4 linked regions of the Homo sapiens genome follow. The protein of the gene in region 1 purifies or fractionates together with the protein of each later gene. This does not show direct contact. Each region holds a gene or a part of one and is shown in the gene's direction. Other genes may lie near its edges.

Region 1 (3,995 bases):
GGTCTCCTCTGGATGTCCTTAGGTAGACACTGCAGCAGAACTGTAAAGTTTTTCTGGAAGTCTGGGGAAGAGAGGAGGAAACAGAGAAGGGGCAAGAGGAGAAAATAGAATGAGGCTCAGAATACCAAGCCTTAGTGCTGTCCCTATCGCCTTCCTCGCTAGATCACTGGGTGATCCTGGGCAAGTTTCTTCCTTTCCCTCAGCTTATTTCCTCATCTGTAATGTAAGTGACTAGACAAGATAGCCTATGATGTTCATTGTAACTCTAACTTTTCCTTCCCAAAGCAAATAGCTGGAAAAGACACTGTGCTTACAATATGCAACAAATAAAAACAAAAGATTTTTAAAAACCCCTAGTGTAACTTGAATTCTTACAAATAAGCAATGGTACATCATAATTTTACAAAGCTCTTTTGTGATTTCATTTTTAAAATCAAGTCAAGTTTTATTTTACTTCATAATAAGATAATGGAGATAAGTGTTAAATGGGTTCATGAAGGAATGTTTGTAAAAGATGCAATAATCCAAAATAGGTAATTGTTATATTAGTAGTTCCCTTTACTTGGGTGGGGGGGGGGAACAGATAGAAGAGTGTTAGGAAAAGCTTCATAAAGTGGATTATATAGAATGTGCTTTAAAAGAGTTTGGTGTTTTACTGAGTGGGGAAAGAGCAATATGGGGAGTTATTGTTCAAGGGTTAAAGCTATAAAAAATGAATCAATTACAGAGATAGGCTCCAAACCATAGTACTTATAGTTAACAATAAGGTATTTTGTATTTAACAATTTGTTAAGAGGGTCGATCTTAGGGGTTCTGACAACAACAACAACCACAACAAAGGGACGTAGGAAACATTTGGAGGTGATGGATATATTATTACCTGGATATTGGTGTGGTAACAAGATAATACTTATGTGCAAACTTGCCAAACTATATCCATTAATTATGTACTTTTTGTGTATAACAATTTTACTTCAGTTCCTACTATATTGCCTGGCAAACAATAGATGTATAAAGTGAGATCAATGATTATTGCATATGCATGTCAAAAATAATAAAGAAAGCAGGTGACAATAAAGACATCCTGAATCTTTGGGAAATAAATAGCATTCACCTGCTTTCTCATCCATTGAGATATCACCACCTTTATGTACTTATGTGTCCCTGGAAGTTTCCCGTGGGAGATTTAGTTATTCTCTTTTCGTTAGGCTCTACTGACCAAGAACAAATCACAGACTCAGAGAGCATCATAAAAAGGCCTAGACCCACGATGCCCAGAGACTCCAGGCTCAACCCACATTGATGCTGGCCCTTCAGCCATGAGACTCCATTTGCTTCTCCTTATTCTCCTTCTTTTTTCAATTCTCTTATCCCCAGGTAAGTTGGTAGCTCATTACTATAAGGTTCTGCAGATGAGAATGCTATATCCCTGGCCAGACAAGAACCTAGAATCAGTCCTGTGGGTTCAAGAACCTAATATTTACAGCTTCACTAGGATTATAATAGGGAAAAATAGAAAAGAGACTCATTTAGCAGTATGTCCTCTTGATAAGATTCCATCCATGTCTTTTGACCTAGTGAGTGGATATAATAATGGATGCTGCTGAAATTCAATCCTGTCAGATGAAACTGCCTACATGTAAATTTCCATGCCCCACCAAGCACCTCAAGATACAAAGTAAGGATACAACAGAACATGACCTCAATGAGATGCCTTTGCGGGACATGGAAATTTATATGCAGGCAGTTAGATCTGACAGGATTGAATTTCGGTGGCATCTATTATTATATTCACTTAATAGGTCAAAAGAGATGGATGGTATCCTATCAATAGGAGCTACTCTAAATGGGTGTTGACAAATCTGAAGGTTTTATTCGAAGAAACAGAAAAACTATAATCCTAGAATAAATGAAAATTATATGAGAGACTTTTCAAAATAAATTATGTTTTATGTGGTTATGAATAAAAAATGATTTTCAAAGTGCAACTGAAGAGTAGAAAGGAGAGTTAAAGGAACTTCAGACAAGTGAATTAATAAGGAGCAAAGACACCAACAAGTGCTGCTCAAGGTATATTACAGGTAACCACACAGAAATGGGTAACATAACTTTCAATACAAAAATGGCTAAAATTTACTGGGCTAAGCATGCATTTTGGGGGCTTTTGGAAAAAAAAAACAGCATAATAAACCTAAAGAAGATAAAGGGAAAATTATAAATACAAAATATAAATTAATGAAACAAATGAGAAAAAACAGTATTTTAAAAAATGTTTTTCAAAAAGTCTAATACACTTTATAATAACCTGGCAACACTGAACAAGAGAAAATGAGAACATGCTTAAAATAACTATTGCAGGAATGAAAGGTTAATATCAAAACAGATGTTTCAGAGATTCAAATAATTTTTAAATTTGTGTATATTCCGTCTTCACTGTGTACTTGGGGATTTTCCTGTTGCAGTTCACTATATCATGACTGTGTCATCAATTTTGATGCTAGTAAATTATTACCATCAGCATACAAATATGCTGTTGTTTTTCTGATCTAAGAAAAAGAATTTCCTTGCTTTTCTTCTGATGCCAGCTGTCCTCCCCTTTTTTGCTCTACTTTTCAGCAAAACATCTTAGAATAGTTGTCCATATTCTCTGTCTTCAATTCCTCTCCTCTCATTGTTTCTTAAATATATCCCAATCAAGCTCTCATTGTTTCTTAAATATATCCCAATCAGGCTCTCTCCCCCTTTTTCGATCATGCTATTGACACCACTTTTGTCAAAGTTATGAATAATCTCCACATTGCTAGATCCAATGATCATTTTTCACTACAACTTTAATCGACCTATTAGCAGCATTTGACACAAATAATCACTTCCTTCTTCACAGTATACTTTCTTCATTTGGCTTCCAGGACGGCTCATTCACTTGATTCTCAGCCTGTCTCACTGGAGCTACCACTTCGGCTTCCTTTGTTTCTTCCTCATCTTTTGCTTCACACCTCCTACAGGAGAGCTCCAGAGCTCAGTTCCTGGTCCTCTTCTCTTCTCCCTCACCACACACTCTTTGGAGGGGCTCAGCAAGTCTCATCCCTTTCAATTCTCCTTTTGGACCTCCTTTTGAACTCCAGGCTTATAATAAATTATCCAACTGCATAACTGGTATATCTACTTGGACACTTGATTTCAAAAGTAATATATATCCAAAACCAGACTCACGATTTTCCCTCAGAAACCTCTACATACACATTTTTTCTCTTCTTGCAGAGTGCCATGGTCAGCATTGGAGCCTCTCTTAGCTTTCCTGTCCACTTTCATCCTCAGCAAGCCTCTATCTCTGCACCTCAAGAATCTCTCAGGGCTCCCATCCCTTGCCCAACCTCGGGCAGTAGCTGCCACACACTCAGTGAAAGACCAGAGAAACTACTTCTCTCAGCTACCGGCCCTGCCCTGCCTTCAGACCTCATCATGCCTCTCTTCTTATGCACCTGTGAGAACAGAGAGTGAAGGGGGGATTCTCTCAGCTCCCCAACCCACTCCCCAGTAACACAGGGTTTTCCTCGATTCTCACAGTGAGACCTTTACCTTGCTCTGACCTCAAATTGCACCAGTTCCTACATGCCTGTCCCTCAAAAGTGTCTCAGGTAGTTCTCCTGCTCTCCATCTGATCTTACCTAGGAGCACACAAGATAGGTCATGAAAAAACCATTAGTGGGGCCACACGCGGTGGCTCACGCCTGTAATCCCAGCACTTTGGGAGGCCGAGGCCGGCAGATCACGAGGTCAGTGGCTAACACGGTGAAACCCTTTCTCTACTAAATACAAAAAATTAGCCGGGTGCGGTGGTACATGCCTTTAGTCCCAGCTACTCGGGAGGCTGAGGCAGGACAATCACTTGAACCCTGGAGGCGGAGGTTGCGGTGAGCCGAGATCGTGCCATTGCACTCTAGCCTGGGCGACAGAGTGAGACTCCGTCAAAAAAAAAAAAAAAAAGAAGAAGA
Region 2 (3,500 bases), on another chromosome or scaffold:
ACCTGAGTCCGAGCACACCTTTCACCTGCCTCCTTTTTCCAGTTATGCCCTCCCCAGCATCAGGCCACCACCGCCGGCTGAGGGGCAGCCCTCACTGCTTTGCCTCCCCTTGTGTCTTTCCCTCCCTCTTCCCCTGTCCCCCTTCTTCAGGTCTTTCATCGAGCTGTACCTATCCTTCCCTGCCCGCCTCTTTTGTCCTCTCTGCTGGGCCTCTGTGCCCTGTTCTCCAGTGCCCCCAGGTTTCTCTGTCCCCTCCTCTGTGGAGTCCTGGCTGAGTGCTGGGTGGAGCACCCGGCTGAGCTGGCCCACCTGACTGCACCCTCTTAGCCCAGCTCTGCTCCAGCGATGGTGTTGGCCAGCGTCTCCCTTCCTCTGAGGGTGGGCAGAAGCAGTGAGGGGCCTGAGGGGTTTGGACCACCAGCAGATTAATGACAACCAGAGTACGTGCTCCTCTCCTGAGTGGACACATGGGGAGCAGTGCCTACAACAGGGCATGCGTCAGTGTAGCTACGGTTAATGGTGGGTGACGTGTGTCTGTCTGGGCCTTCCAGCCCCTGTCTCCATCTCCCTGTGGCTCTCCCTGTTGGAGGGAGGCAGCATCACTCATCTGGGTCCCCCATCTTCCCAAAAACCTGCCTCAGCTTTTGCAGGAGGGAGGGATGAGGCTTCCCAGCCGCTGCTGCTGTCACCGAGATGCAGAGCTGCCAGGTGCTCACAGCCCTCCTGGTGTGGAGGACTTTGGGGGGACCCTTGGCTGCTGTTCCCCTGGACTCCATCTTTATCAGGCACCTCCTTTTGGTCAGCTGTGCCAGGTTAACCCCTGAGAAAGGAGGAAACTCATTTTAGGATGAGTCCCCTCGTAGTCTGCAGGTGAATCTCACTCCAGATTCTTTGTCACACTCATGTCCCCATGGAGAGACTGACTCCAGAGTAAAGCTGGCCTCTAAGTGGACTTCTGCAGAAAGTATCCCCTTCTCCTCCTGCCTGTGTGCAGGTGGGCACTGCCAGCTCCTGGCATCTCAGATGTGTATGGGTGGACACTGCCAGCTCCTGGGAGGATGTAGTTTGGGGACATGCTGGGTGTCAGGTGTAGACTTTGCAGGCTCCATTGGGATGACCTTGCCTTAGTTTCCACAATTGAAATGATAGAATCTGCTTAAGAGGCTGGTGGTGAGAATTAACGGGAGAGGATGCCGCCTCTAGTGGGCAGGGAGGGCTCCGTCAGGTGCCATGGCTGCCACTGTTAACATTAGCATTAAGCCCAGATGTTGCAGCCGGGCGGTAGCCAGTCTTACTGCGAGACCCACCAGTCTCCAGGGCTCCCACGGGCTAGGTGGCCGCCTGTCTCTCTACTTTGCTCATGCTGCCCTGCCATGACTGTGCTCTTTTCTCAGGTTTAGATCCCCTCCTTCAAGGTCTCACACCCGAACCTTCCAGAGGCCTTCCCATCCCAGCTCTGGGCTGTGCCACTCTCTCAGGCTGTGCCCACCCACATCAGATTCTACCTCCTTGAGGAAGACATTGGGCCACCTCCCTCCCTCACTCCCTGCAACACAGCTTGACTGTGGTGGGGGACGTCTCCAGGCTAATGGTGATCTCCCTTACTGAGCCCAGGCCAGACCCCTCACCCACATTAGTGCCTTGACCTCAGAGCCCGTGGTCATGTCCATCCTCCAGATGGGGAGACTGACCTCAGAAAAATGAAGGGACCTGCTTAAAGCCCACAACCATGAGAGGCAGGGCAGGGGAAAGGATAGATCTGTCAGACACTTGGCTGCCCAGCCAGAGGGCTGGGGACATCTGGGCAGTGGGCCCAGGAAGTGGAGGGGGGCTTGAAGCCTGAATCTCTGGGAAGAAAATGAAGAGGCCTAGGATATGAGAGCTGGGCCTGGGACTTCCAGCTGTAACTTTGCCCTGTCTGTCTCTCTTTCCTCCTCTGGGTCTCAGGCAACCCTGAGGGGCCTTCCTTGGCATGAAGCTGCCTTGCCAGCCCCAGTGCTTATAGCCCCAGTGCTGACCTCCATCTACCTCCCACGTATACACAGGCCATCATGGAGCACCCCCAGCCCAGAGCTTTCCTTCCCCCAGCTTTGAGTTATGGGCCAGGCCTGCTCTGTGTGGAGGGGTGGAGGAGAGGAGGGGCTTCATCTGGAGATGAGATGCCATTTCCTTCTCCAGATTCCAGTCTGATTCCGGAGAGAAAGGTCATGGAGGTGGGGGTGGGGCTGGGGGTTGTTCATGGAAACCTGAGGCTGGCTCCTTTAGTCCCTTGGCAGTTTTGCCAGGTCTGAGGGGACTTCACAGGGCTAGGATCTTATAGATGCTGGGGGAGCCTCATGCCATCCGGATGGGTGGGACTTGGGGGGTTTGGGAACCAGCGTTCAAGGGCTTGTTGCTAGGGAACTCTCCAAGGGGCAGCTGGAGGTTTGGGAGTCAAGGCAGGTGGGCTGAGCTCTGTCTGGCAGGGCGATGTTGCCTGTAAGATAGGAGTGGTCTTTCTCTCTCTTCCCCCTTCCAGCCACCTACCCCACTCCCGTGCGGAGATTTGCCTCCAGACCTGGTGCCTTGTGTCTTTAAGTGACTGGGCTGTGGGCCTCAGGCCTGGGGAGGACATGCTGGGGAGGACATGAGGGGCTTTCCCATTGCTGGCTACAGCCCTCCAGCCAACTGGGAAGATTCTCTTCATGTCAGGTTTTTTTTTCTTTTCTTCTTCTTCTGGTGCCTACTGTCTAAACAAGAAGCTACAGAATCAATATTCGTATTCCCCAAGGGAAGTGTGTGTGTGGTTTTTGCTTTTTTTTGCTTCCCTTCTTCTCTTGTCCTGTGGAACCTGAAGAGCTTCCAGAGCTGCCTGTGGCTAAGGGCAGAAGGGGGGCCAGTGCAGGTGACCACAGAGATTGAGATGGCCCTGCTGGCTTGCAGGTCCCCACAGGGGTCTCTTGGGGCCTCCCTAAAGGAGTCAAGATTCTGTCATTCAAATCTACATAAGGTCAGGACCTAAGGGGCAGACTCAGCCAAGCCCTGCCCTGCCACTGTGAGACTCAGGCTGTTGGCTTGGTGTCCCCGGTCCTGGTCCCGCTCCTCTCACCTGGGCCCTCACAGTGCTTTTCCTTCTGCATCTGGTCTGGACCTGCTGGGTCCCCAGCCATCACTGTTACCCGTGACTGAGCCTGGTGAGGGGAGAGCCTCACAAACCAGGAGACTGTCTAGCTGGGATTAGGTGGGGAGAATATTCACAAAGGAGTTCTGAAAGCCCCCATCTTAGGTGAGGAGGCCTCTGTCAAGGGCAAGCCCAGCCTAATCTTCTCAGTTGGGTAGCTTGCTTGGTGACCTTGGACAAAACCCCTCCTCCCCCTGGGCCTCAGTTTCCTTTCTTCCAGGATCCTTCCAACTCTGACATTCCAATGCCCTAAGAAGACAGATCTGGGGTCTTCCTGCTCCTCTCCACGCCCTGCTTTAGCTGTGGCCGCTGGGCCTTGTCTCTTCCAGTGTGAGGGTGC
Region 3 (3,500 bases), on another chromosome or scaffold:
ACCAGCCTGATAGCAGAACACACATCACCCTGGGCCTACACTGTTCCCCTAGGTCCATTGGCTTTGCAGCTTCTGGGTCACCTGGGAACTCCGTCATCTTTGCCAAAGCCAAGCGTCATTAGCCCTTCTTCTCCCAAGTCTTCATTTCTGATTGCTGATGGGGCACCCAAGGGTACTGTGGGTACAACCCAAGGACTCCAAAAAGCTCCTTTCCTCACCTGTTGCATCTCAAAAGCACTCTCCTTGTCCACTCTTTGGGAGGGTACACCAAGCATAATTGCCTTAATGGATCAGGCTTTTGAAAAACAAAAAATCCCAAAGTATATGTCTGGAGCCATCTCCACTTCTGCCTGGCCACAAACCTCCCCTGAGACCAAAAAATCACAGAGCCTGACCGTCAGCTGCCTGAAGGAAGCTAAAGGCAAGAACAGAAGTGGAAAATAGAAGTCACTATTTCAAAGAAAGAGCCCTGTCTTACTAGTATCATGTCAACTTTATGTCTCAATAGAATACACCATATAGAGCAAGATTTGCAGAACTGCTAGCTCCTCGGTACAACTAGGTAACGTTTTAAACCAACGTCAGCCTATTCAATACATTTATAATTTAAGACAACTCATTCCTTCCAGCTAAGTGGTTAGCCTAATGTTCTTTTAAAAAGAGTATGGTGATATGTATAAGATTAATTAAACCTTTTCCTGCTGTTTCCTGTCATCTACATTTCCAGCTAATGAGGTTTCTACTAAAATTATAGTAAAATGTCACAAAGTAGTGCTTATGAAGAAAGCAGTAGCCTTATAGTCAGAGAGATTTCATGAGGAGGTTGTACTCTGTCCTGTCTCATTAGCTTGACATCTTACCAGTATCTCCACTCCTGAAGAGTGTTTCAGTGACACAAATCTGGTCCCTGCTAGATCCAGAGGCCCAGATGAAGTAGGCATGATCTTACTTATAGCATACAATTTCTAGGGTTTTCCCCTGTATACCTCCTTTGTGCAAACATTCTCTCATTTCACATGTGAATCCAACATAGTCCCACGTATTCTTTCTTTTTTGCTTCCATCTGGTCAGTCGGCAAGCAGATGTTCTTCCTAACAGCAGAGATCAGCAAACTTTTTCTGTAAAGGACCAGATAATAAATATTTTGGGCCCTCGGGGCTGTCTTGGTCACAACTACTCCACTCAGCCGGTAGCTGAAAAGCAGCCATTGTGGCTGGGTTTCTTTTTTCTTTCTTTTTTTTTTTTTTTTTTTTTGAGATGGAGTCTCGCTCTGTCGCCCAGGCTGGTGTGCAGTGACAAGATCTCAGCTCACCACAACCTCCGGCCTCCCAGGTTCAAGCAATTCTCCGGCTTTAGCCTTCCGAGTAGCTGGGATTACAGGCACGTGCCACCACGCCCGGCTAATTTTTGTATTTTTAGTAGAGAGAGGGTTTCACCATGTTGGCCAGCCTGGTCTCAAACTCCTGACCTCAGGTTATCCGGCCGTCCGGGCCTCCCGAAGTGCTGGGATTACAGGCGTGAGCCACGGCGCCCGGCCTGTGGCTGGGTTTCTAATAAATCTTTACTATGGATGCAAAATTTGAATTTCATATATTTTTCACATGTCGCGAAATATTACTCTTTTTCTGTTCAACTGTGTAAAATTGTAAAAACTGTTTTTTAAACCACGAGCCGTACAAAAACAAGCAATGACTACGTTTGGCCCATGGGCTGCAGTTTGGGCCAGTTCGTGATATTTCTCACTAATGTACAGAAAATGGTCCCCCAGGCAGCAAATAATTCACAAATCACTCCTATTTGGCTCTGGAATATACTCTGTAATTTTTTAAACAACATGCTTATTGTCCTGGTTACCTTGATTCTAGTCCAATAATAAAATTAGCACACATTCCAGATGAGCAGAGACAAAGAGGCCACTTTAAAATTAGGCCGGGCTGTGGGGGGCTTGTGCAGTGATTGCAAACCCCCCAGTGGAAGAAGGGGAGTCCTCACACAGATAATGACTAACTTCCTGTAGAAACATCAAACATTTTTACTATGCTCTTACCAAAGATTTAAATGGTGGCAATGCTAATTATGCATTCTTTCTACATTTACACATTGGCACTTTTTTTTTTTAAATCAGAAAACTCATTGCTGATTTATCTTGTTACCATGGTGATTTAAACATTTCCCTGAGCTTGAAAATACATGCCTTAGTACTTCATTAACTTCCTCAGAGATCATCAGGAAGGTAAATCTTAGGATCAAAGTGGGTTTCAAGATCATCTAATCCAAGACTCTCAATTCACAAGTGATGAAACCGAGGCCCGGGAGACTCAAACATTTTACAACCAAAATGTCTGCCATCTGTACCTATCCCAAGGTCCCTTGTTAGCAGCAGATAAATGAGGCTTGTCCAACCCAGTTCTCCTGACTGCTGCAAAATGGTCTTTGTACCTCATCACTGGGGCTCTAATCACTAGATCACCTGCCAGAGTAGTGGCTTTAATGACCTTAGAAAGGGTACATCATTCTACAACATCCTGCCCCTCCCCATCACTCTCCTATTCTTTCAGAAGAGTGTTGGAATCCACGACCTCTTCTGTAGGTACTGGAAGGGGCCCGAAGAATTCCCGCATATATCCAGAAAAGCCAGAAGTTTGGGGACCCATTCTTAAACTTCCTAGAATGTCCCCTTAGGAATGAGCATCGGCACTTGGAGGTGAAACTCTTGAAGGGTTTTTATTTAGAAATCAGATTGTCAGCATGTGGTGGCATCTTCTTAAACTTAGATAACGGGTCCAGAGTTGCCTGGCTAGTTAGTGTCAGGTTCATTAGACTAGATGCATCTCTCCTGGCTTGCCAGAGTCTCTAGGTGTGGTTGTACATTCTGAATGCACTGTTTTGAGTATTCAGCACCTGTTGTGCATGTGTCTCTGCAGCAAGCGATCCCCCTCCAAGACCATCCCAGGCCTCCCCAGACACTGCCACGTCCACTGCAAGTCCAGCTGTGACTCCAGCTGCAGATGCCTCTGACCAAGACCAGCCCACAGTAACTAATAACCCGGAGCCACGTGGGTGAACTGTGCACTCCAGTTCTCTCCAGATGAGAGAGAATCTTTTCAACAGCTGGTATTGGGAAGCTGGGGCCAGGGCATGATCCTGATAAACACCTTAAATGTCTTGTCAACTGGATGCAAATTTTGCAATTGGTGTCATTTTTTTTAAAGTCAAATTACAAGGAAGTACCCAGATCAGGCAGTGGTAATACCAAAGGTCATCAAACACATACAAGGAACATCTTGATCATAGGGCATGTGGGGAAGTTTACTGGGCCATCACAGACTTTTGTTCTAGTGATTGTATGTATTAGGAGTCATAGCATGCCCTACGGCAGATCTGGATTCTTATACACTAAGATGTGTCTTAAGAATCACAGTGCGTGCTTCATCCCTTTATTGAAGAACAGAAAATTATGACTACTCTACAAGGTGGATAATATTTTGGTACCTGTGCTT
Region 4 (4,243 bases), on another chromosome or scaffold:
GTAGGTAGTTTATCAACAACAGAAATGTATTTTCTCACAGTTCTGGAGGCTGGAAAGTCCATGATAAGGCATAAGCGGATTCAGTGTCGGGTGAGGGCCTGCCTGTGGTGCACAGATAGTGCCTTCTAGCTGTGTTCTCACGTGGTTGAAGGGGCCGACTCTCGGGGTCATTTGATACCGGCACTAATCCCATTCATGAGAGCTCTCCCTTCAAACTCTGTTCACCCCCAAAGGCCCATCTCCTAATACCATCATCACCTTGAGGGATTAGGATTTGAACATGAATTTGGGGGGTCACATTCAGATAATGTTATATATAACTTAAAAAGAACAAAAATGTGGAATTCATGGAGATGTTCATTGCAGTATGGATTACACTGAAAAACTGTAAACAACCTAGATGCCCAGTAAAAGGGAAACAGCCAAGAAAAGTCTGTGTCTTGTTCACTCGCTGGCAGGAAACATAGAGCAGGCACGGAAAGGAAAGGGACTCGAGGAATGCGCTGTACCGACAGGAGGCAGCACCCCTTTGCCCGAGGGGCGCAACGACAGAGACCTAAGGCTACCTGGGCCGGAGCCGGGTGAGGCCGCGGAGAACGCACCCCGCTACGCGTCTGCCGAGACGGAGGCGGGCGTTTCGACCACTGCCCGATCATGCGCTTACTCAAGTAGGATTCCGAAAAAATTCAGTCGCGCGTCCCTCCTGAGGTTCCGCAGCTGGCCAGGCCCGGCCCGGGCTGGTGCGGCTGCGCACTGCAGCCCAGCGGAGCGGGCCCGGGAGGAGCCGGGCGGGGACCGCGGCGGCCAGAGCTCCTGTCAGCTCCGCCGGGCACACGCAGGCCGGGGCGGGCGGCGCGGCTGTCCCCGCCCCGCACGCTGCTGGGCCCGGCAGCTTCAGAGGCTGGCGGACCCGCGCGGGGCCGGCGCAGCGGAGCGCGCCGGCGGCCCGGGGCCCAGCGGGAGCGCGGCAGCGGCGCGCGGAGCAGGGGGCTACGGGTGGGCGGGCGCCCGCCTTCGCCTGCGTCGCTGCCTGCACGCGGGCCGCCGTCCCCGGGCGTGTGAGAGCCGGCAGCTCGGCCGACTGGGCCCGGAGCGGCGCGGAGGCCGGGCGCTGACGGTAACGGGCCGGGTGCGCGCGCGGGAGGGCTCCGGCTGCCCCGACAGAGGCCGGGCTCGGGCGGCGGGAGTGCGAGCGCCACTGCGGCGTCAGAGGGGCCAGGAAGGGACAGGAGGCTGCCTGAGGCCCGTACCTGGCGCCTGTCTCTGCGGTCCCCGGGGCCGACGAAGTCGGAGCGGGTGGGGAGGGAGCCGGGCGGGCGGCCAGAGACCTGGCGGCAGGTGCCTGCCCTCTGTGATCCAACTCTCTCCCCAGCTCCACCCACATTGGCCTAGACCCAGTCTCTAAGGGCTGAAAATATTGCCCGGAAGCTCCCGAGCAGAATCAGATCGCGCTAAGTAGGGCACAACGCAGAGGCGACAAAGCTCCTCGGCCCCAGGGCCCGCGGAGCAGACTCCGGAGCGCGGTCCCGCCCACGCTCGGCTCCGCAGTTAGCGTCCTCCTTCCTCCTGAGCAGGCAAGCGGAGCCCGAGGGCGGTGGCGGCGGGGGGCACGGGTCCCCTGAAGTTGCCTCGCAGCTGAGCACTGGGCCCCGTCTCTCCCTTCCCAGGGGGCCTTCGGCGTCACTGCAGGCTTCCTAGGGGTCCCCTAAGTGCTCTGCAAACCGCGGCTGGAAGTTTCCCACTGCAGTGAACAGTAGAGAAACAGGGAGAACACACAGGGCTTGCTTTATGCTAGAAACACAAGCATCTTTCTTCTTTATTAGAAAGAAACTCATTCTGTGTTTCTGAGAAAGGATCGTGCCAGGCACTGTTTCTGGTGAGTGCCAGTTTGACCCGAAAGGGCACTGAGAAAGGCTTTCCTATCAGTCTCTTTGGGTTCTGGCTAAACTTTTAAATCAAACAAAATAGAGACTAGCTTATTCACCTGAAACTAGAAGCACATGGCCGAGGAGCCTGAACAGGCACCTCCTATCTAGGCAGGGAAGCTGTGTAATCAGGAGCTTGTGTGGTGCGCTCCAGTCGGAGCTGGGACTCTTATCCTGGGCCCGTTTTTCATAGCACCAGCCAAAGGAGAGCGTCCTCTCCACCCTAGCGGCAGAGCTGCTACCAGGACCAGGTGGGCCAGCCTCAGATGTGCTGCTTGTGCTACTTGGAGCCAGGCAAATGGGTGTTCCTTTGGAACAGCCCTCAGGAACTCACTGGGGTATTTGGTGGAAAGACTGCCACGGGCATTTTGCATGTTGGAGCTACAGATGGTGTCCTTCCTGCCAGGTGTGTGTGGAGGCCAGTATGAAGCTGAAAAAGCAGGTGACAGTGTGTGGGGCTGCCATCTTCTGTGTGGCAGTCTTCTCGCTCTACCTCATGCTGGACCGAGTGCAACACGATCCCACCCGACACCAGAATGGTGGGAACTTCCCCCGGGTGAGTCGTGCCTGGTTGCTAATTTCTTTGTATACAAGTCACCTGGGCTCAGGGTATGCACCTCCCACCCCGCCGCCTCCCCTCCCACCCCCCGCTGGAGGGTAATGTCAGTACAGGACAGGAGCCTTCCTTCCCAATAGTCAGGTTTTGTAGAAACCCTCAGCTAAAAACAGTGATGGCGAAAAGAAGGAAGGAAGAAAAAATGTCAATGGCAATGAGTATTGTCACTCTGTTCTCCTGAATTCTTTTCTTTCTTTTTTTTTTTTTTGAGACAGAGTCTCGCTCTGTCGCCCAGCCTTGAGTGCAGTGGCGCGATCTTGGCTCACTGCAACCTCCGCCTCCCAGGTTCAAGCAATTCTCCTGCCTCAGCCTCCCAAGTAGCTGGGACTACAGGAGCCTGCCACCATGCCCGACTAATTTTTGTATTTTTAGTAGAGACGAGACGAGGTATCGCCATGTTGGCCAGGCTGGTCTTGAACTCCTGACCTCAGGTGATCCACCCACCTTGGCCTCCCAAAGTGCTGGGATTACAGGTGTGGGCCACCGCGCCCAGCCCCTCCTGAATTCTTGGCAGACATTGCTAATTGATTGCAGCATTCTTTGCCATTAAGCCCCGCTGAAATCCTCAGCACAGGCAACACCGATTGTTGAGAATAGGTAGGTGAAAGGAAATCTTTGCCATCCCTGAGCTAGAGAGTGATGGTTCTCCCAACCCAAGTGGAGTGTAGTCCTCAGTGGTGATCTGCACAGCTCCCTTTATCTGAACGGTGTCATCTATCCCTCTAGGCTCATGGTCTGGCTTTGACTGATGAGGGAAGAATTGTACTCAGGCCTCAGCTGGTAGACCCCAAGCAGAGACCCTCCCTGTGGCATAAGGAGCTGTGTGTGATTGCTTTCTGGTTTTTTGGCAGAGCCAAATTTCTGTGCTGCAGAACCGCATTGAGCAGCTGGAGCAGCTTTTGGAGGAGAACCATGAGATTATCAGCCATATCAAGGACTCCGTGCTGGAGCTGACAGCCAACGCAGAGGGCCCGCCCGCCATGCTGCCCTACTACACGGTCAATGGCTCCTGGGTGGTGCCACCGGAGCCCCGGCCCAGCTTCTTCTCCATCTCCCCGCAGGACTGCCAGTTTGCTTTGGGGGGCCGGGGTCAGAAGCCAGAGCTGCAGGTAAGAGTCAGAGCTGGCAGGGACGTACAGTGGCCACGACTGGGGTACTGAGCTGCAGTTCACCTGGCAGATGCTCACTGTGTCGGAGGAGCTGCCGTTTGACAACGTGGATGGTGGTGTGTGGAGGCAAGGCTTCGACATCTCCTACGACCCGCACGACTGGGATGCTGAAGACCTGCAGGTGTTTGTGGTGCCCCACTCTCACAATGACCCAGGTGAGGGCCCTGCAGACTCCTGGGAGCTGGAGTGTGGAGTGGGATTTCTGATGGCCAATACAAGGGAGGGACGTCGAAGAAGATGGTGGCATCCTCAGGGGACCCTACATTGGCTCCCTAGGCTGGATCAAGACCTTTGACAAGTACTACACAGAGCAGACCCAACACATCCTCAATAGCATGGTGTCTAAGCTGCAGGAGGACCCCCGGCGGCGCTTCCTCTGGGCAGAGGTCTCCTTCTTCGCCAAGTGGTGGGACAACATCAATGTCCAAAAGAGAGCGGCAGTCCGAAGGCCAGTACCAGGCGGGGAGGCATGGGAGGGCATTGTCTGAGCCCCAGGCTGGGTGGACGGGTCTTACCTTAAGCTATGGGTGCCA

Evidence for each region.
Region 2: the proteins of DEFB109B (region 1) and CACNA2D2 purify together in Homo sapiens (affinity purification with mass spectrometry; one large-scale study listed by BioGRID and IntAct). This does not show direct contact.
Region 3: the proteins of DEFB109B (region 1) and SEL1L3 purify together in Homo sapiens (affinity purification with mass spectrometry; one large-scale study listed by BioGRID and IntAct). This does not show direct contact.
Region 4: the proteins of DEFB109B (region 1) and MAN2A2 purify together in Homo sapiens (affinity purification with mass spectrometry; one large-scale study listed by BioGRID and IntAct). This does not show direct contact.

Annotation. Positions count from the first base shown.
Region 1 is NC_000008.11:7,311,527-7,315,521, forward strand, and holds the start of DEFB109B (beta-defensin 109B precursor), read left to right. Parts: upstream 1-1,195; 5' UTR 1,196-1,319; coding exon 1,320-1,377; intron 1,378-3,995. UniProt on the Homo sapiens protein: Has antibacterial activity.
Region 2 is NC_000003.12:50,497,135-50,500,634, reverse strand, and holds part of CACNA2D2 (voltage-dependent calcium channel subunit alpha-2/delta-2 isoform b precursor), read left to right. Parts: intron 1-3,500. UniProt on the Homo sapiens protein: The alpha-2/delta subunit of voltage-dependent calcium channels regulates calcium current density and activation/inactivation kinetics of the calcium channel.
Region 3 is NC_000004.12:25,747,989-25,751,488, reverse strand, and holds part of SEL1L3 (protein sel-1 homolog 3), read left to right. Parts: intron 1-2,924; coding exon 2,925-3,064; 3' UTR 3,065-3,500.
Region 4 is NC_000015.10:90,901,859-90,906,101, forward strand, and holds the start of MAN2A2 (alpha-mannosidase 2x), read left to right. Parts: upstream 1-1,443; 5' UTR 1,444-1,574; intron 1,575-1,667; exon of another isoform or gene 1,668-1,876; intron 1,877-2,331; 5' UTR 2,332-2,349; coding exon 2,350-2,481; intron 2,482-3,392; coding exon 3,393-3,650; intron 3,651-3,720; coding exon 3,721-3,865; intron 3,866-3,986; coding exon 3,987-4,158; intron 4,159-4,243.